Linked DNA regions of Homo sapiens. The protein of the gene in region 5 purifies or fractionates together with the protein of the main gene of each other region. This does not show direct contact. Each region holds a gene or a part of one and is shown on either strand. Other genes may lie near its edges.

Evidence for each region.
Region 1: the proteins of SMAD6 (region 5) and ACVR1B purify together in Homo sapiens (affinity purification with western blotting, with the first as the bait; one study listed by BioGRID). This does not show direct contact.
Region 2: the proteins of SMAD6 (region 5) and BMPR2 purify together in Homo sapiens (affinity purification with western blotting, with the first as the bait; one study listed by BioGRID). This does not show direct contact.
Region 3: the proteins of SMAD6 (region 5) and ACVR2B purify together in Homo sapiens (affinity purification with western blotting, with the first as the bait; one study listed by BioGRID). This does not show direct contact.
Region 4: the proteins of SMAD6 (region 5) and PELI1 purify together in Homo sapiens (affinity purification with western blotting; one study listed by BioGRID). This does not show direct contact.

What each region holds. Positions count from the first base shown.
Region 1 is NC_000012.12:51,957,828-51,962,005, reverse strand, and holds part of ACVR1B (activin receptor type-1B isoform a precursor), read right to left. Parts: intron 2,747-4,178; exon of another isoform or gene 2,516-2,746; intron 1,951-2,515; exon of another isoform or gene 1,819-1,950; intron 1-1,818. UniProt on the Homo sapiens protein: Transmembrane serine/threonine kinase activin type-1 receptor forming an activin receptor complex with activin receptor type-2 (ACVR2A or ACVR2B).
Region 2 is NC_000002.12:202,560,866-202,565,004, reverse strand, and holds part of BMPR2 (bone morphogenetic protein receptor type-2 precursor), read right to left. Parts: 3' UTR 1-4,139. UniProt on the Homo sapiens protein: On ligand binding, forms a receptor complex consisting of two type II and two type I transmembrane serine/threonine kinases.
Region 3 is NC_000003.12:38,456,535-38,460,712, reverse strand, and holds part of ACVR2B (activin receptor type-2B precursor), read right to left. Parts: intron 1,283-4,178; exon of another isoform or gene 1,139-1,282; coding exon of another isoform or gene 1,024-1,138; intron 1-1,023. UniProt on the Homo sapiens protein: Transmembrane serine/threonine kinase activin type-2 receptor forming an activin receptor complex with activin type-1 serine/threonine kinase receptors (ACVR1, ACVR1B or ACVR1c).
Region 4 is NC_000002.12:64,137,592-64,141,769, reverse strand, and holds part of PELI1 (E3 ubiquitin-protein ligase pellino homolog 1), read left to right. Parts: intron 1-983; exon of another isoform or gene 984-4,178. UniProt on the Homo sapiens protein: E3 ubiquitin ligase catalyzing the covalent attachment of ubiquitin moieties onto substrate proteins. Involved in the TLR and IL-1 signaling pathways via interaction with the complex containing IRAK kinases and TRAF6.
Region 5 is NC_000015.10:66,700,974-66,705,035, reverse strand, and holds the start of SMAD6 (mothers against decapentaplegic homolog 6), read right to left. Parts: upstream 2,801-4,062; 5' UTR 1,778-2,800; coding exon 961-1,777; intron 945-960; exon of another isoform or gene 1-944. UniProt on the Homo sapiens protein: Transforming growth factor-beta superfamily receptors signaling occurs through the Smad family of intracellular mediators. SMAD6 is an inhibitory Smad (i-Smad) that negatively regulates signaling downstream of type I transforming growth factor-beta.

The DNA.
Region 1 (4,178 bases), on a different chromosome or scaffold from region 5:
TGTCATTGCAACTTAATTTATGGCTGACTGTAAATACCTGAACATCTAGCAAGGGCCCACCTGCTGCCCAAGAGAATGTCAAGGTAAGACTGAAATGAGTGGGCCTCATTATGAGGGAGTGTGTCCAATGTTCCTGGGACCTATGTGTGCAGACTCAGCTGTCATATTTAGACAATCAGGAAATTGCATTTCTCCTTTGATATCAGTTTATGATGAACATGTAAAACCACTGTTTTCTTTGTTGAGTCTGAATAAACATACTTCTGGCTCAATAGAGCAGGGAAGGATATTTATCCCTGGTATTTTCTTCCTGACCTATTTATTATAGTATGGACGAATGGAGAGGAGACCGTGTATGTCACAGTTTTGAGTGAGAAGAGGGATAGGAATGATTGTTTCAGGCAACTGGGACAATGGAAAAGGAAAAAAGAAATCAGCCAAACTGAGAATAAAACTAATGAGGTTGAGAGATCAAGTTCATTTGGCTGGAATAAAATGGGTAGGTGGTAGGATAAACAGAGATGAAAGAGGTGAGGTAGAAAGAGAGATTATGATGTTCCAAGTAACTCACAAATGTTTGCGGCATTTTTTGAGTAGGTTTAAAATACTATATATACAAGATTATAATAACATTAGAGCAAAACAGAATTGGAATTATTTACCTAGGATTTTACTGAGAGGATGGAAAAGAAATGAATTAATTCAATTAAACAAACTTATTAAGTACTTGAAACATGCAAGGCTCTGTGCAGGCCGAAGCCATATAACAAATAAGCCAGCTCCCCGCACCAATTCTTTGGGCATGGAGAGTGGGAGAAGACAACTATAAACAGTGCAACTCCAACTACCAATACAGGCTGAGGGGAAAAGCAGAGAGGATGGAATCACTGACCGGGAGAACACAAGAGGACGAAGGTCCACACTGGAGGACGCTGGGTTTGGCTAGGAAGAGAAGTGGGGAGAAGCATTCCAGAGAAAAGGAAAAGGGAAAGCAAAGGGCTGTGAAAAAATATTAGCTACACTGGGTTCAGAGTAAATTGACAGTTCGAACAATGCCAAGGTTCCAGCCAAAGGCAAGAAGAGTCAGGGAGACTAAGACCAGATGAAACTGATTGCAATGCTAAGCTAAGGGGTCTAGAGTTGATCCTAGAAGCCACACAACCTCTAGGTCAGACAAACAGGGTGCATTTCCAAAGTTAGATCTAGCCGTAGGATGGAAAACAAATGGGAGATTGAAGGCAGAGAGCCTGGTTAGAAGGTCACTTTTACAGTACTCACAGTTTATAGCACAGTACAATATTTAGAGCACATGTTTTGGACTTGGATAGACTTTGGACCCACTGCTTAACTTCTCTATGCCCTAGTTTTCTCATCTGTAAAATGGGAATAAGAGCCCCTAGCCCCTCAAAGAATAACTACATAGAGTAAATGATACAACACAGGTGCTTAGCATAATACTTTAGTATATAGTAAACATTCAGCAAATCAGATGCTTTTATTACAATTGTCACCTGAACTCCTCATAGTTTGTGGTAGTTCCAACAAGCAGAAAAAAAGTCCATTTGTGTGTAAACTTTTTTTTTTGAGACAGGATCTCACTCTGTCACCCAGGGTGGAGTGCAGTGGTGCAATCATGGTTTGCTGTAGCCTCAATCTCCTGGTCTCAAGCTATCCTCCCACCTCAGCCTCCCAAGTAGCTGGGACCACAGGCACACGCCACCAAGCCCTTGTAATTTTTAAAAATGTTTTGTAGAGACGAGGTCTCACTATATTGCCCAGGCTAGTCTCAAACTCCTGGACTGAAGCGATCCCCTGTACCTCATTCTCCAAAGTGTTGGGATTACAGGCATGAGCCACTGTGGCCGGTCTCTGTGTGTAAACTTCCAAAGGGCAAGGACAGACTCTTTCCTCAGGATCCCTCTCAGCATTCAGCTTGGTGCTAGGCACATCCTGGATATCAGAAATGAACACTGACTGATTACAATTCAATCTTATCTTCTACAGGTATAAAAGGTAATATGCAAACATATACCAAAGCAATATACAAGGATGTGGGGCAAGGTGAGTCCTCTACCACAAAAAAAAAAAAAACCCAGAAAATACTTCAATTCCCAGATTCCTCAACTCAAACATCCCAAGCACCTAAAAAACTTATTTCCAAAGCATCCACAATCCCCTCTCCCCTCCACTCACAAATATCTAGAAAAAAGTTATAGTCAGATGAAAGCCACATGTGGTCAAAGGATTTATTTTTATATGTGAGTGATGGGATGGCTGGGCACCAGGTCTCAAGTACCCTCATGCCTATCTTGGGGTATTTCTCATTATTCCCCTCTCTTGCTTTACCTATTTTCACCATCACCATTTGACTCACCCCCACCCAATGCATACATTTTTTAAACCACCACCTAGTTACTATTTCACAGTTCCTACAGGTCAGAAGTCCAGGCACAGCACCGACAGTGCCAGTTAGGGCTGCCTTCTCATCTAGGATTGGGTCCTCCTCCAAGCTTACTGGTTGTTGACAAGATCCACTGCCTTGCAGATGAAGGACTGAGGTCCCCATGTTCCTCCTAGCTGTCAGCTGGGAACCACTCTCAGCTCCTAGAGTTTGCCTGCAGTTCCTTGCCATGTGGCTGTTGGGATCGGCAGTTCACAACATGGACGTCTGCTTGCTTCCAAGCCAGCTGGAACATCTGATTTCCTCTTGTGCAATCAGCTGAGAAATCTCTCTGCTTTGAAAGGGCTAGTTCAATCAAGACAGACCCACCATGATAACCTCCTTTAGATGGCTAAAGGTCAACTGATTGAGACCTTAATTCTATCTACAAAGACTAGCATTTGACTGAATACCTGAAGCAGGTGTGTGTACACCAAACATGGGGAATCTTGGGGAAGTGAGGAGCAGAAGGTGGACTGTAGTAGGCACAACTGCTTTACATTTTATACTTTTGTTTATTGTCCACCTCACCTGGCAGAAGGTAAGCTTTCTGAGAGAAGGCAATTTTGTCTCCTTTCGTTTACTACTGTATCCCTAACACCTGCAACAATGCCTAGTATATGACAGGTGCTCAATAAATATGTGTCAAGGGACCCTTTGGATCAGGGGTCCCCAACCCCTGGGGCCACAGACCGGTACTGGTCCACGGCCTGTTAGGAACCAGGCCACACAGCAGGAGGTAAGTGGCAGGCGGGTACCTGAGCTCTGCCTCCTGTCACATCAGCGGCGGCATTAGATTCTCATAGGAGTGGGAAACCTACGGTGAACCGCGCATGCGAGGCATCTAGCTTGCATGCACCTTATGAGAATCTAACATGCTTGATGTGCCTGATGATCTTTCTTTTCTTTTTTTTTTTTTTTGAGGAGTCTCACTCTGTTCCCCAGGCTGGAGTGCAGTGGCGTGATCTCGGCTGACTGCAACCTCCGCCTCCCGGATTCAAGCTATTCTCCTGCCTCAGCCTCCTGAGTAGCTGAGATTACAGGCATGCGCTGCCACTACCATGCCCGGCTAATTTTTTATTTTCAGTAGAGATGGGGTTTCACCATGTTGGCCAGGCTGGTCTTGAACTCCCAACCTCAGGTGATCCACCCACCTCGGCCTGATGTGCTTGATGATCTGAGGTGGAACAGTTTCATCCCAAAATCATATCTCCCCTACTTCCCCTGTGGGAAAATTATCTTCCACGAAACCAGTCCCTGATGTCAAAAAGATTGGGGACCACTGCCCTAGATCACCATGGTAGGTACTCAACATGCATATGTTTAGTTTGCAGTCTGGAAATGGGACTTCTAACTACATGTATTAAAATTCTGGTTTAGTGAAATTCTACAATTTTATTTCTACCACTTTTGTATACAGTTCTAACAAAATATGGTTAATGCAAATTTATTTGTAACCCCAATATCAACATTCATGGTACCTTCCTGCTCACTGACAGCCATGCACAGAATAGTGAAACATCTGAAACACCCACCACATGCATTCCCAACTGAGGTCAAACAAGGCAACACCCTGCCTTCTTGTTTCAGCTGGCATACTGTAAACAAGTTATCCTTTCTGCAGTATATTTAGTGTCATGCTTTTCATTGATGATTTTGCTGTATAAAATGGTCCCCCACAAGTAGTGCTGAAGTGCTGTCTAGAGTTCCTAAGTGCAAGAAGATAGTGATATGCCTC
Region 2 (4,139 bases), on a different chromosome or scaffold from region 5:
CGATCTCGGCTCACTGCAACAACCTCCGCCTCCCGGGTGCAAACGATTCTCCTGTCTCTGCCTCCCGAGTAGCTGGGACTACAGGCGCGTGCCACCATGCCTGGCTAATTATTTGTATTTTTAGTAGAGATGAGGTTTCATCGTGTTAGCCAGGATGATCTCAGTCCCCTGACCTCGTGATCCACCGTCTCGGCCTCCCAAAGTGCTGGGATTACAGGCGTGAGCCACCGCGCCCAGCCTAACTATGAGGTGATTTAAGGAAAGTAATGGGAAGGTGCACTTAAATGCCCTGTGATTCCCTCTTTTCTTTATGTTAATCTGGAAACTTGTAGAAAAGCCTTCTCTTGATAACAAATTTTATGTAACTAGCTCAAACAGTGATTTGCCAGATTTACTTAATCAAGGAATATATTTAGGAGGGAATCATGCAAGATAGTTTTGGGTAAAGTTTGCACAGTTCATAATCTAAAAGTTAAAATGCAACCTTATATGCTGGAGAGTAAACTGCCAGTAACAGTACATTTAGAAACATTGCATTCTGAAAAAGTCTCCTGGGGTTTATGTGGGAGTGTTACAATTTCCAGAATGACTGGTCTAGATAATCAACATGTGTGTCCGGATTTTAACTTTAAGAAGTTAGATGGGAAGATAAAGCAATATATGAAGCAATCTGTGAATAGTTACATAATAACCTGCACATAACAGGTAGTAAGTTCAACATAACTTTATAAAATGTTGTATGGAAATATAATCTCAAATTCTAGGAGTTAATGATCTCCAATAAAATATTCATGTCCATAAATATGAAAAAAGGAAAAGCTCATTGAAATATTTTTCCATTTTAAATGACTTTCAGGAGGCACTTACAAAGACTAGAAATTTCAGTGTAACAGCTACAGCCTACCAATTCCACTTGGCTGTAGAAGTCAAATTTGAAAATAATTTAAATAAAAATACTTGCCAATGTTTTGTGATAATTCCCACTGAAGCCCACACTTACTTGAGTGTTCCTTTCTCTCTTTAAATATTTTCACATTCAGAACCAATGCACATTTTCTGGAACAAGTGGATACATGTAAAGAAGCTATACTAAACTTTTATAAAAAGGACATTATATCCTTGTATCCTTCCTATATCCTACTCAATTAGTTCTATAGATTAGTAAATTTTCTAAAGTTATTAAAAGCAGAAGTTTTGAAGATGGATTCAAAGGATTGATGAGACTGAAATTCTTTGTTAATTCCCCCAAATCTGCTATGGAATCAATTTAGGGAAAGGTCTCTGTTCCCAAAGCTATCTTAACTTTTTCCGTAAAATTTACTTTACCATTAGTTCTGCAATGTAAGAAATGTTAGGAGTGAAGTGAAATGATTTTAAGATTCATGATGGAAGATACAGGATTGAGTTTTGTCTAGAATTAGTAATTATTTCTCAAGCAACAATCAGCATAGATATGTCTACATATCTCATATTTGCCTAACTTCCCAAATCATTAAGGTATGTGGTTTGGCTCATATACAAATGAAAATTGTGCCAGAGTATAGTGACTGAATTTTTATGTTTTTTTTTTGAGGCAGTCTTGCTCTGTCGCCTAGGCTGCAGTGCAGTGGCGCGATCTCAGCTCACTGCAACCTCCACCTCTCGGGTTCAAGAGATTCTCCTGCCTTAGCCTCCTGAGTAGCTGGGACTACAGGCGCCCACCACCACGCTCAGTTAATTTTTAAAAAATATTTTTAATAGAGACGGGGTTTCACCATCTTGGCCAGGCTGGTGTTGAACGTCTGACCTCATGATCCACCCGGCTCGGCCTCCCAAAGTGCGGGGATTATAGGCATAAGCCACTGCACCTGGCCTGAACTTTTTAAATAAACGTTAGCCCATTACACATCCTGTCATATGGCATGTAGGCAGTGTGGTATGGATGAAAGAGATGTGGAGAGAGGCAGACATAGACTGAAATCCCAGCTTTGTCTGTTACTAGATGTGGACCTTGGGCATATTACTTAGCTTCTCTTAGCTTCAGTTTCCTCATCTGTAAAATGGGAATATTAATTACAATGCTCATATGGTTGCTCTGAGGTTTAAGAGAAATAGCATATGTATACTTCAGCATTCAGTATGTGCCTTCTTGTAACTTCCTACACTGGTAACAGTGGGTTTTTTTTTTTGCCAATTATGCATTTAGAAAGTTTTAAGAATTTACAATTAAATCATTTTTGTCTAAACGTAATTCAAATCAAGTTCTTTCAGTGACCTAATTCTGGTATACAGTTAGGATTTTGTTAAGGGAACTAATATTAGACTTTACCTATTATGATGCTTTTAAGGTTACATTACCATCCAGTGAAATAAATTTTAATATTTTTAGTTGAATGATCTTTTATTCAAAAGGACCCCACTTTTCTACATATAAAACTTTGTGATAGCAGTTAAATGTCAACTTTAAGAAGCATTTATTATCAGATGAGTATTAGCATACAATTAAGTCATTTAAAATAATTTTGCTTGCTTGTATATTACAGATTTTAAAAGTCTGATGTACAATTTAAAATTTATAAAAATGATATATACTTTCCACCTTTCCTACTTTTTCAGGAGTTTACTAAGAAAAACTGGTGAAAGGAAATTATTTGTTTTAAACATGCTTGAATGAAATAGTAAACTATTCAGTTATTTTAATCTGGCATATTAATTTTTAAAGCATTTTATCATAATTTTCCCAATATTAAAAAATGTTGGACAACCTACAATCAACTGGCCCAAATACAAATATAGCAGAACGTAAGATAACTCTTCTGGCAGGAAAAGATCAGTTAGACCTCAAATGGTCATTTATCCTCAATGCTTCAAATTGGAGAAGGAACATAATTTATTTTGATTCAAAGTTGTCCTACAAATATTTGAAAAGAATATCCTAAAATGCATGTGAAAGATATTTAAGGGCAAGAGAACTAAGTGAAAATGTACTAGGAAAGATAAAAATAATTTGTTAATAGAAGAATAATAACTGTGAAAAAAATTACGTGCCAGAAGACTGAAAATAGATTAAGGGGCTGAATAAAGAAAAGGGCCAATAAAACACAAAACGTGGAAATCCTGGGCACTAACAAGATATTCTTAATTCTATGAATCCAGAACTGTGTTCAGCAATCCAGCTGAATAAATGGTAGGTATAGTAACATCTAACTTGTAAGATCACAGCACATGGCAAATGAGAAGGCTTATATACAAGTAAATCACAAATATTTTGGACAGAAAATTGGGAAATTTAGGCTGTCTTTAGCTAAGTGATAAGATAGAGGAATATGAGTGAGAAAATATTGTTCAGGAGATAAAAACATAAATCAGAAATTTGGTGATTTGTGTTTTCCTCTTAACCTTTTAATCCCTGGAACTATCTTAGAACTAAACTATATAACATTTACTAAGTACTCTGATAATCGAAAAAAAAGTAAAAAAAAGTGAAATCATCAGTTTGCAAATTAATAGAAAATAATTTCTGTTTAGAAAAAAGTCCATTATTTGACAGAAAGTGCTTTATTTAAAAAAAACATGCAGAGGTTGTTTTAGAGGAGATTATAAGTAATGAAAGAAGCAAAGGGCTTTTAAAAATAATATGATTTCAAGTCATTTTATTACTAAAAGGTATACTCTAATGTAAATAATAAATGTTGCTCACATATCAAAGATAATGTGAAAAACTGGCAAAAGGAAAAATTATGAAAATAGGATTAAGGAAGATAACACAATTTTGAAAAGAGAGAAGTTTAGTCTCAGTTTGCTCAAAAAAGGTAGGTTTGATAGCAGCCCTTCCTTCATAGGGACTTGGCATGCCACTTGAATGATTTTTCCTCACAGTGTTTTAGGTCATGGGAAGAGGAATCATTTTCAGATAAAGTCACCAGTCTTTGCTTGGGAACAGGGTAAAAGATACTATAGGTTCAGAACTATAAATTACTTCTGAAGTTATAATAAACAGTAAGGGTAATTTTATGAGTCAAAGATGGCCTATTCAGAGAATGAAGGCTATAACACTATTTTGTCTTAACCATTTATTTACCTACTTAAAAATTCCATAAGTGTAGCTCTATAAGCTTACCAATAAAAATGTATTTCTTAAATAAATGAACATGGAACAT
Region 3 (4,178 bases), on a different chromosome or scaffold from region 5:
CCCTGGGAAGAGGGCCTCACATTTGCCCAGTGGGACAGGCTTCCTTTCCACACCCGCTTCCAGAGGTCATGCGTCCATGAATGAAAACACCCAGTTGGAGCTGCCAGTCCCAGAAAGAATCTGAAAAAGGCACATGCATGTGTACAGCAAGCCTAGAATAACCAGGGGAAAGCATGGGGCTGTCCGAAGGCGGGAAGCCATTATTGGTCCTGGGCCGGGAAGAGACATGGCTGACCCTTGAACAATCCCAGCCTGCTTTATCCATTGATTTCCAGTACCTACCACTGCCTTAGTCAGAGACATCACTGAGCAATGTAATAGAGTCAGAAGAAGGCAGCAGCATTTCCACCACCAGAAAACCTGGGCATTCAGTAGCAGTACCCCCAGGACCACAAGGAATAGGCACCTCTAGGGCTGGGATGGACCCGTAAGTCTGGTAGAGAATGAGAGACCAAAAAAGAAAGCCCAGAACAAGGGGGTGGGTGTCTGTTTTGGAACACAGAATTAGTGATAGAACCGGAGGGAAGGAAGAGAAAGAATTCTGAGAAGGAAATAAAGTCCCCTTTGTAAAGACCCCAAAAACAGATGGAACTAGGAAGTCTGAACCTCAGCAAGCACTTCACATACCAGTGATGTGGAGCACTTGGAAACTGGGTCTTTGAAAAATGCTTCCTCCACCCTAAGAGTCCAGTTTGTAATCACTTCCCAGTGCAGCAAACTGTGTCTCACTGAGTTCAAGATGAGACAGACAGAGTCCCACAGAAGCGTTCCCTAGCCAAGCTTGAAGCAGGCCAGGGGAGGAGTAGAAAATAAACATGGGGGCAGCCACAGGGGGCTGCCAGCCTGCCAAGCCCAATAGACAAGCCTCCACAGATACCAACCGCTCCACCAGGGCCTCCAGTGTCGGCTGCCTGTCTAAGGCAGCGCTGCCCACACCTCCCCAGGTCCACAGCAGGAAGCCTGGCCCTGCCCTCAGATTCCCATCTGGCCACCACACCCTGAGGGAGAGACTTGCACCCATACCTTTGGGGAGAGGCTGCCCACCTGCCCTGGTGTCCCCGGCCTGGGGGCTCCAGGCCCACAGCCTCTGCGGCTCCCCGGAGCGCCACATGGCAGGTCCACTCAGGGGAAGGGGCATGCCCACGGCCTGCTACAACCCCAGTGCTCCGCTTGGCAGACAGGGCTAGCCTTAGCTCCTGAGGCCCCCAGGTGAGCAGAGAGGGGCTGCTGGGCAGGCAGAGAGTCCCCAGCAACAGGCACTTCCTGGCATTTCTGCGTGTACGGGAGGAAGAGGCTGAGTGCCAGCCTTAAGGCAACGGTCAGAGGCGAGTGGGCGGGTGCGGGCAGGCAGGCTGCCCAGCCACCCACAGCCTCCGCCTCCCTGAAACCTGAACCACTTCTGGGAAAACTCAAGGACGCCAGGATTCTCCTCGGTGGTAAGCTGTACACCAGAACCACTAATTTTGAACCAAACTCTCACGTGCTGAGCAGATTTCACTAAGCAGGAATCTCCTAGGCTTTGAGGAGAACCTCACCTCCAACCCTGCATCCAGAGTGGGGGGATGGATATGCACTCAAAAGCCGTTACCCCTACTTCTTACAACTGTAGACCTCTTTGAAAGCGTGAGAACATTCTAGATCAGTGGTTCCCAATCTGAGATGATTTTGCTCTCACCTCTGCCAGGGACATTTAGCAAGATCTGGAAACATTTTTGGTTGACATGATTAAAGAGGATCTACTGGAATTTGTGGGTAGAGGCGGGGATACTGCTAAATATCCTACAATGCACAGAACAGCTCAACCCACCACTACCCATACACAACAGAGTATCATCAGGCCCAAAATGTAATAGTGTCAAGGTTGAGAAACCCTGTTCTACAGTGAGGCCCATGCAACCAGGACCCTGCCTCAGGACTATCTAGAGTCTATCTACAGTCACTAGCAAAAATATTATCCAGACCCAGTCCTCAACCCTCCAGATCCCAATCCATGGTGACAGGTCAGTATCCGTGAGTGGATCTAAACTCCTGAACCGATACTCCTTGGTTCTCATTTGCACTACCCTGAGCTCCCAAGCAGAGGGGCTGAATGCATAGGCTGGCACTCAAGAGGACAGCTTTCTGGAAAGAGAGACCAGGGCTAGAATCTGAACATCCGGCAGGATCACAAAAGGCAAAGTAAGTGAGGTACCAAGGTGGAAAAAGCACCCCTCCCCCGCAGAACAAGCTGCCCCTTAAGACTACTACAGTGGATATGTGCAGGGCAGCCAGGACTTCAAGGAGTCTAATCAGGGGGCAGTAGGTTCCCAGTATCTGTACAAAACAGAGTGGGTGCATACAATGTACACACACATGCACACATATACCGATTTACATTTTCCTGGAGGAAGGGTCCACAGCTTTCATCAGATTCTCAGAGGGGTCTATGACATGGAGGACCACTGTATAGAATGTGGGCTCTTCATTGGCTCCTTATAACAGGAGTTCCTTAGGTGAAGTGCCAGCAGAGGTCCAGGTGCTTCTGGAGATTCTTGATGCCCAGAAAGACCCACAGAGTAGTACACAGTAGAGGCCCACCCAAGTGATGGGAGGCCATAGGGTTTAGATCTTATGTTTTTACCCAGCTATAGGGCCTGGAAAGATGGGCAGGTTTCTCACATCATCTGCCTTGAAAGGGCCCCTAAGAGCTAGGGAGGATACCCATTCCTCCCAAAAGGCAGCCCACCCAGACAGGGCAGAGCCTCGAGTGCCCAGCAGATACAAGGACAGGTAGCAGAAAACACTCTTCTCTGGGAGGGGCACCCACGGCCCATGGCTCTGTAGCCCATGTCCTTGGCAGCTACCGCTACACTAGGCCTGAGGGATGAAAGTCACTTCACTTCATGAGCTCACTCCCTCCGCCCTCCCCCAAGGAAGTGGCCAAGAAACTTCTTTGGGTCAGCCTATCAGAGTAATCAGGGCCTGCACTTCCTGATGGGATAGACAGGAGGCAGGTCCCTCTCCAAGAGCTCTGGTCACTTCACTTAGAATACTGTTTACCCCACCCCCATAAGCCCTTTGATCTGAACCCCAAGTACAGAGTACAGAGACAGGTGTCAGGAGTTCTTGTAGGATACAGCATTGAGTGTCCAGGATGTCCACTGAAATGCAAGAGCCAAATGGCTTGTTTCCCAAGGACACTCGGCCAAGCACAGACCACAAAAGACTTGAAGAATTATTAAAGAACCAACTAACCACTGACTGATCTTGTGACAAGCACCATGTGACATTTATTACACCATAAATTCTACCTTCCCTTCTGAGATTCCATTGTCTAATATGGTAGCCACTAACCAAATGTTCTGCAGAGCACTGGAAATGTGGAAAGTTAGAGTTGAGGATGTTCTGTAAGGCACACACTGGATTTTGATGACAGTACAAAAATGGAATGCAAAATGTCTCGTTTTAATACTGATCTCAGGCTGAAATTACTTTGTATATATCAAATTCAGTGAAATATACTTTTTTTTTGAGACGGAGCCTCACTCTGTCACCAGGCTGCAGTGCAGTGACATGATCTCGGCTCACTGCAACCTCTACCTCCCGGGTTCATGCCATTCCCCTGCCTCAGCCTCTGGCGCAGCTGGGACTACAGGCGTGTGCCACCACACCCAGCTAATTTTTGTATTTTTAGTAGAGACGCATTTCACCACGTTGGCCAGGATGGTCTCGATCTCTTGACCTCGTGATCCTCCCACCTCAGCCTCCCAAAGTGCTGGGATTACTGGCATGAGCCACTGTGCCAGGCCAGTAAAATATACTATTGAAGTTCATTCCATCTCATGGAAAGAATGTGTCCCCCCAAAATTCATACAATGAAGTTCTGACCCCCAGTGTAATGGTATTTGGAGACGGGACCTTTGGGAGGTAGTGAGGGTTAGATTAAGTCATGAGGGTGGGGCCATCAGGTAATGAGAACAGGATTCACAGTCTTACAAAAAGAGGAAAACACCCCCTTGCCCCACCCCACCCCTGTCATTTGAGAATGCAGTAAGAAGGCAGATATCTGCAAGCCAGGAAGAGGGTCCTCACCAGAACCCAACCATGCCAGCACCCTGCACCCTGGGCTCAGACTTAGAGCTTCCAGAACTTTGACAATATAAATTTCTGCTGTTTAAGCCACCAGTCTACAGTATTTT
Region 4 (4,178 bases), on a different chromosome or scaffold from region 5:
GAAGTTAGTCTAGTACTGCCAAATGCCACTGAGGCAAGTTTCAAAGGGGAAGCCAAAGGATGTTTCCATTTGATTTAAGTTCAGCCTCTTCTGGGTTGTCAGAATGTCACTTTTGTATTTTAAGAGTTCTATCATTTCAGAATATGATGTATTATGGTTTTCTAGTAGGTCAGGTGGTAAGGACTGTAGATAGTCATTATGCTTCGTGGACAACTAATGTTTTTAGGCAGAAGCTTCTATAGCTGATAAAGATTTTAAGCCAAAGACTTAGAATTGAAAACTAATATATACATACACATTTTACCATAATACATCAATGTAGACCTATCCTAGTATTTATTAGGTTAGAAAGGCTTTTTGGATTATTTTATTATACAGATATATTTAACTGTAAATATTAAAATTTCATAATGACTAATATATGATGGCACTGAGGTGGCTTTAGGAGCTCCTTTGGGGTGGGGGCGGGAAACATGTTATTCCAAAAGTTACATTTATGTCTTTGAGGACAGTAAAGCAGATTTAAAAGCCAGTGAGAAAAGGAAGAAAATCAGCAAAGTGAAGAAAACCTGATGAAGATGTTTTTAAATAATACAATGTAAAGATTGTTGGCAGCATTTATATATAAGGGACAAAATTCTAGTTGAAGTCTATAAACAGTGAATTCCACTTAGCACTTTCTGTTTATAGATTTCTAGCCATCTTTTCCAGATTCCCTCTGAATATATTACACAGGCAAAGTAAATAGAAGTCATTCTTTCAAGGGATTTGGGTTCTTGGAGATTTTTTTACACTTGTGGTAGTGGGGGAGGGGAAGTGCTTATTATATTTTCTTAGTTTTAAGTGTGACCTGTGCCATAGAATATTTCCCTAGACTAATGTGTGGGAACCTCAAGACAAGAATTATTGGTCATTGAAAGATCTGGATATGATTTCAAGTTCTGCCCCTAGGTTTTTTTTTGTTTGTTTGTTTTTTTTTTTTGCATGTTGTCTTGAGTAGATCACTTCTATTTTTCCTTCAAAGGCTGAAAATAACTGCCTAACATACTATGTTTAGTAGGTCCTAAATACTTTTTGTTGTTTAATGAATTTACAGGTAATAAAGAGAAAGCACAGTGTTTCTTGAATGGATGTCAGGGAATTTCTAATTTTTTTCTTTTTTGATAGAAAAAAGTAATCAAAACATAAACATCTGATTGGAGTCTTTCAGTTAGCTTACCTACCTTCAGAAATAAGCCTAGAGAAAGAGAGCTTCATCTGGTAGTTTAACAGAAATGAATTGTAAATGACTCTTAAGAAGAATTGACAATTTTTCGGAATGTTGTACTAGATGTTTTAGATTCTTTTTGCCACATAAACTCCACTTCAGAGAAATGGGGTTCTACATAGTACTCTTGTATCGCCCCTGTAATACCTTTACACCTCAAAATACCAGTTGCAGAAAAATAGAATGTGTTGCTGATGCCTATAAATGGGAAAATCCTGACATCTGTCTTCATCCTCCAGTTAATCTTCATGTAGTTTTTAAAAAAATTAATTCAACACACATGTAATTTACTTCCTTTTCAGAAAATTTGTTGCTAATTTTTATTTTATAATGAGCCTCTTGGGATGTTGCTAATTCTAAAAATATGTAATACCCGCGGTTTCCCACCATCTTCTGCAGTTTCTTTTTCTATTATTTTTTTGGCTACAGTTTTCTTTTTCCCCTAAGCTGTCTAAAATAAGCTAAGAAATGTTTAAATGTAGTTGACAAGAAACACAGTCAGTAATTTATCATGCTAAAATTTCAACATACAAGGTGCAATGAAATCTGTTTTAGGGATAGTACACTTTTGAAGGGGGCTAAAGCAGGGACAGCAAATAAATTTCGTTTGGGGTACCAAATCTGATTGTTTAGTGGTGGCTGCCTAGAGTGCTGTGTTTAGAAAACTGGGAGTCCTTGTTCAAACTTAGCAGGAAAGAGTACTGTGATTAGCAATTTCTGCTGTTGGTGAGCGGTGGACTTTTGGCATGGATGCCAAATACATTCAGTGTTTATTGATGCCGTTTACATGTCACAGGTCTAGATGCTGATACCTCATAGACTAAAATCTCTGCTTTCATGGTGTTTACATTCTAGTAATAAGACACAAACCATAAAATAAATAAAATACATTGCGTTTTAAGAAAAATGGCTGGGCGCAGTTGCTGACACCTGTAATCCTAGCACCTTGAGAGGCTGAGGTGGGAAGATCCCTCTTGTCCAGGAGTTCAAGACCAGCCTGGGCAACGTGGTGAGACCTTGTCTCTACAAAGAAGTTTCTTAAAAAATTAACTGGACGTGGTCCCAACTACTCGGGAAGCTGAGGTGGGAAGATCACTTAAGCCTGGGAGATTGAGGCTGCAGTGAACCATGATTGCACCACTGCACTCCAGCCTGGGCAACAGAGCGAGACCCTGCCTCAAAACAATAGAAGTTAAAAAATAAATAAAAGAAAAATGACCTGATTTATTCAAAAAATTAATAGCAAGAAATAGGGAGGGAGAACTATAAGATTAAAAGAGACTTAAGAGGCTTTTCCACCAAATGCAATGTATGAAGCTTAGTTCTATCCTGCTTTGAGCAAACTAACTGTAAAAAGACATTTATTCAAAATTGGGGAAATTTAGACTCTGGATATTTAATGAAAAGGATTTGTCCATTTTTTCAGGTGTGAGAATGTACTTTTTAAGTGTTCTTTTAGAGATGTATAATGAAGTGTTTACAACTTAAAATGTGATGTGTGGGTTTTTACTTCAAAATATTGAAAGGGAGAGGAACATAGATGAAACAAGATTGGCCATATATTGAAAATTGCTGAAGGTAGATGCTATATGGATACATGAGGTTTCTTACTTCCTCTTTATTTTTGTGTATGTTTGAAATTTCCCCTAATAAACAGTTTTACACACAAACAGGAAAATAAAGCAGGGAAGGGGAAGGGAGAATAAATGGGATATGTGTATGAGGTTCGGAGGAGGATGCAGTTTTTTGCTTTTTGTTTCTTGTTTTTTGTTTTTGAGATGGAGTTCTGCTCTCATCACCCAGGCTGGAGTGCAGTGGGGCGATCTCAGGTCACTGCAAATTCTGTTTCCTGGGTTCAAGTGGTTCTCCTACCTCAGCCTCCTGAGTAGCTGGGATTACAGGCACACGCCACCACGCCCAGTAGAGTTTTGTATTTTTAGTAGAGACAGGGTTTCACCATGTTGGCCGGACCGGTCTGAAACTCCTGACCTCAGGTGATCACCTACCTCCGCCTCCCAAAGTGCTGGGATTACAGGTGGGAGCCACCACACCTGGCCAAGATGCAGTTTTAAAGGGTAGTGAGAAAAGACTTCATTGAGAAGATGATAAATAGTTAAAGTGAGTAATGACCTGAAGGAGGTAGCACAGCAAGCCTTGCAGGTCTCCTTGGAGCAAGACATTATACACAGAGGGAATAGTAAGTGCAGTGGCCCTGAGATGGGAGCGTGCCTACAACTGCAAGAAACTACAAGAAGACAAGGGTGTGAGCCAGGCATAGTGGCTTGCACCTGTAGTGCCAGCTACTCAAGAAGCTGAGGTGGGAGGATCATTTGAGCCCAGGAGTTCCAGACCAGTCTGAGCAGCATAACCAGATCCTGTCTAAAAAAAACAAAACAAAACAAAAAAAACTAGCGTAACTAGATCAGGGTGAGCGTGAGTACATAAAATCAGCATCAGCATGGGAAAGGAAGGTTAGAGAAGACTAAATTGTGTAGGGCTGGTTATCCATCTTTAAAGGAAAAATATTTTATACACTTATCTAAAATAAGTCTTATACTTTAGAGTAGTCACCATGGAAGCTATACACTTAACAATACTAGCATTACTCAATATTTTTAGAAAAAAAAATTTTTTTTGTCGTCTAAGCCAGTTTAAGAGCCACACGTGAAAATAGCTCATTACTTTGTATTTGCTCCTTGTTTTTAAGGAAAAAAGGGGTGATTGGCCACGTGATATTTCATGTTATTTATCAGATATGACTCACAGAGGATCTTGACAGAAAGAAAATGGGAAGTAACTTGAGGCTATTTCTAAAAATCAGATCCAGTCTGAGAAGGCAGTTATTGTTTGTAAAAGTCAGATCCACCCATAGACTAAAAAGGAATTTTAATAATGTTGTGGATAATTGTAG
Region 5 (4,062 bases):
CATACATCCCTCAGAGGCTAGCTACAGGCTAAAGTGTGTGTTCCCCACAAGACAGAGGTCAGAGCAAGGCAGCTGCAAGCTCCTGGCCTGCTGGAGCCTCCTGACCTGCTGGGGCCTCTGCCTGTCTGCACCTGAGCACCAGGGCCTGGCCAGGTAAGCAAGGCTGAGGGTGGGGCGTGTGCAGGAAATCCCAAGAGGAGAACAAAGAAGGGGGGCAGTTCTCAGAGGTAATCCAGTATCTGGCTTCTTCATCTACTCACGGATGCCTCCAAGACCCTAAACTCTATACAAAAGCTGAACACAAAACTTGAGAAGGACTATGGAAGACCCTGGCACTTGACACCCAAGGGATGTGGGGAATGATATTATGTGGGGAATAAAGAGGGTGCTCTTTACTCCAGAGAGGGGTTACCCTGCAAAGCTTTGTCGAAAGTATGCAAAGGCACAAATTGGACATTTGACGAACACTTTTGATTCTAGCTATGATTTGTGTACACCCAATTTCACAACTTACAGCTACTTGGACATAGAAAAGCACAGTGTGGGTAAGGGCACGTGCATACAAATGCTAGAAGCCTGGGCACAGACTGGGGTAGATTCCGGAATTGAGGTAGGAGGAAATAGCACCTACTTCTTTGGTCTCTCCTTGGCCTGCCCTCCCCTTTCACTGCCTATGAAGTTGGAGCCTACATCATGTCCCTGAAACTGCACAGAGAAAACTACGACATGTACCCTTTTAAGTTTACCGGAGCCTTGAGATAAAGTTGCCACTTGATGTGTGTGCTGGGACACCCACTCCCCTCGGCCGGTCTGAGGCGCCTCCCCTGGTGGCTCCCACGCTCCAAGGGCACCCGGGGGAGCACCCGCAGCTGCGCCGACCCGCAGTGTCACAGAGAGAAGGGCACGGAAGGGGATGGGGACGGGGACCCGGGGCCCCCCCGGCCGGCGCAGCGCGCTCACCGGGCCCGCAGAGCCGGCTGAAGTGGTAGGGGTTGCAGCACACGGTAGGGCCGTCGGCGGCGGCGGCGAAGCTGTGGCAGCCGCACAGGGGCTTCAGCTCCACGGCGTGCTGCAGGTCGGGCCAGCGAAAGAGGCGGCCGAGCAGCAGCTGCGGCGGCGCGGGCTGGCCGCCCAGGCGGAGGTCGGCGCGCGGCACCAGCACGCAGCCGCCCGGCACGCCGCCGCGGGACTCCACCGCCTCCAGCAGCGTGTCCAGCGAGCGCTCCTTGAGCCGCTTCAGCAGCGAGTACGTGACGGTTTTGAGTTCCTGCTCCAGCAGCAGCAGCCGCGAGCGCGCTTCGCGACTCCGCCCGCCGCCCGCCGGCTCCAGGGCCGCCCCGGCCAGGGGGTCGCTGGCGTCCCGGGGCGCGCCGGCGGCGTCCCGCTCCGAAAAGAGACAGCAGGTCACCGTCTCGCAGTCACTCTCGGGCAGCCAGCCCGGGCCTCCCGGCTCCGCCACGTCCAGCAGGGAGCTCCCAGCGCCGGCCCCTGGCTCCGACATGGGCCTCGGGGGGCCCCCTGCGCGCCGGCGCCTCCCCGCGCCCTGGGCGCCTCGCTGTCCCACTGCGTCCCGGGGCCGCCGCGGGGCTACCGGGCGGACTTCGGAGCGGCCGCAGCCTCCGCCCTCTCTTGCCCGCGGGGCCGGCTCAGCTCGGCTGCCCAAGCTCCCATCCTCGTCGCCGCCACCGCCGCCGCCGCTGCCGCCTTCCTCCCGGTCGGGGACCACACGACTTCGCCAAAGTCGCCGCACCAGCCCCGAGCGTTTGGACCTGAACATACGATATCCTTTGGCGCCAGGGGTGGGGGGGAGGCGGTCTCCGGTTACCGGGGGTCCGTTCCCTCAGCGAGGCGCCGGCTGCGCGGGTCGCAGCCCCACATGAAGCTCCGCCGCGGAGCGCCGTGCAGACCGCGCACAGCCTGTCGTCGAAGGGGCGCCGCAGGGCGACAACATGAGGGAGCTCGCCGAGGCGGGACGGCCGGGAACACGCGCACGCCGAGCCGCAGTCCGCGCGCGGCCAGCGGCTACATGGACCACAGCGGCGGGGCTGCTCAACAACTCCAGCCCCCGCGCTTTAGGGGGGCTGCAGGCGGCGCGCCGCCAGAAAGACCCCACATGGGCCGGCGAGCCTTCAAAAGTTGTGCGGCTGGTCCATGAGCACAAAGCGCTCGCGCGAACCCCTAAATGTGTCTGGAAAGCCCTGCCTTTACCTTGCCTTTTTTTTAAACCAAAGCGCTTAACTACATGGGCTTTTCCCGCAGGATCCGAAAGGCAGGCTTGTTGATACCCCCAGCTCCCTTCTTACTCCCTGCAAAAAGAAAAAAAAAAGGAAAGAAAGAAAAGGAAATCCCAAACAAAACCTAAATCCCTGGATTTGCATGCACGAAAGGCCAACGCCGTCTCAGGTCCCAGGCGCTAGATGCACTTGGAGCGAGTTTCTCCTGGACGCGGGTGTCAACACATGAGTGGAAGCTGTAAAAATCCCAAAGAGCTGCTGGGAATCCTTAATTAAAAATGCAGTCCACCGATGCAGAGGTCGCAGCCCGCCCCACGCTGCCCTCGGACGCTTCGTGCGCCGAGGCTGCCGAGGTCGCCCCCCCTCCCCCCTCCACAAAAGTGCCTCCCGGTGGCCCCGGGGTCCCAGCGAGGTCTGGCGAGGCAGCGCCCGGCGGCTCTTTCTCTCGGCTCAGCTCCCTCGATCGCTCCCCCGCTCGGCTCTCTCTCTCTTTTTTGTTCTCCTCAAACGCACACTGAGGGCCCCCGGAGGAGCGCCGCGGAGTCATTGGCTGCCTCCCATCATATGCCAGTCTAGACACTTTGGCGGCTCCGCGGCGCTGATTGTTGCGCAAACAAGGTTTCAAGTTTCTTAACTCTTAAAGGAGAACACGTCCCATTGCAGGGCCGGAGGCTCCAAGGGGCCGGCTCCCGGGGCGGGCCGAGCTCGGGCCCCCGCCCCACACCACCCCGGCACCCCCGCCCAGGGCCTGACAGCGCCCGCGGCCCGCTTTCTGCCTCGCGTTGCGCCCAGAGCACGGATGCGAGCGAGCACACACGCGCGCGCGGACACACACACACACACACACAGGGTTACACGAGCCACGAGCAGGCGCGCAAGGCTCGGCGGACCCACTGAGACTCGGACGCAAACGGGGCGCTTTGCCTCTCCCTGGCTTGTGCACAAACTTACAAACACACTTTGCACTTTAAAGTTGTTCCAAACCCCCATCCTAGGGTAGGCTAATAAAAATGGGTGTGCATGTGTGCCTTCCAGGGTTGAGCCTCTGAGGAGCAGGGGGCGGCGGATATGTTGGGGTAGCGGATCTTCCGTGACTGCACTAGGGGCTCTACGCTCCTTGCACAAAGTCGGGGGTCGCTCTGCCGGGCCAAACAGGGAGCTCAGGACGCTTTGCGTACGGTGGCTCCAGGCTCGCCCGGAGTGGGGAGATGGAGAGGGTGGGGTAGAGGCGGGGAGTGTCTACTCGCTGGCTCCTCTCGGTCGCCACGGCCCTCCCTTGGAGCGAGGCGGGCCGCCGGCCGGCCGGGCCCCCTCCAGGCCGGGTGCTTCCTCTCCCTTCTCAAGTTTACTCTCCGCACCTCGGAGAGGGCTGTAGGTGAGGGATCACGCTTTCCCTAGAGAGGTTTCCACGCGAAAATGGGGGTGGGTTGGGGGCGGGATCGGGGGCGCGGCGGCAGCAGCCTGACGCCCGGCGCGGGAAGGGTTAAGGCCGCTCCTGCCCCTGGAGCCGGCGCGGCGGGGTACCTCCTCGGGCGCGCTCGCTAGTCCGAGGGTGGCAAAAGTTCAAGCTTGTAAAGTCGGGATTGGTCCCGCGCGGAGGGGAAAAAAGGCCTGGGCCCCCCTCCCCCCCCGGGCGCGGCGCCGATTGGCCAGGCAGAGGGGCCGGCCCCGCCCTCTCCCCCCGCGCGCGGCGGCCCCACCCCCGGCGCGGCGCCCCGCCCCTTTCCGGGCAGGAGCCTGGCCCCGCGCTGAATGAAAGAAATTCCGCTACTCTCATTGGCCCGGGGCTGGGCGCCATTCCCCCGCGGTGACCGCGGGGCGCCGGCGG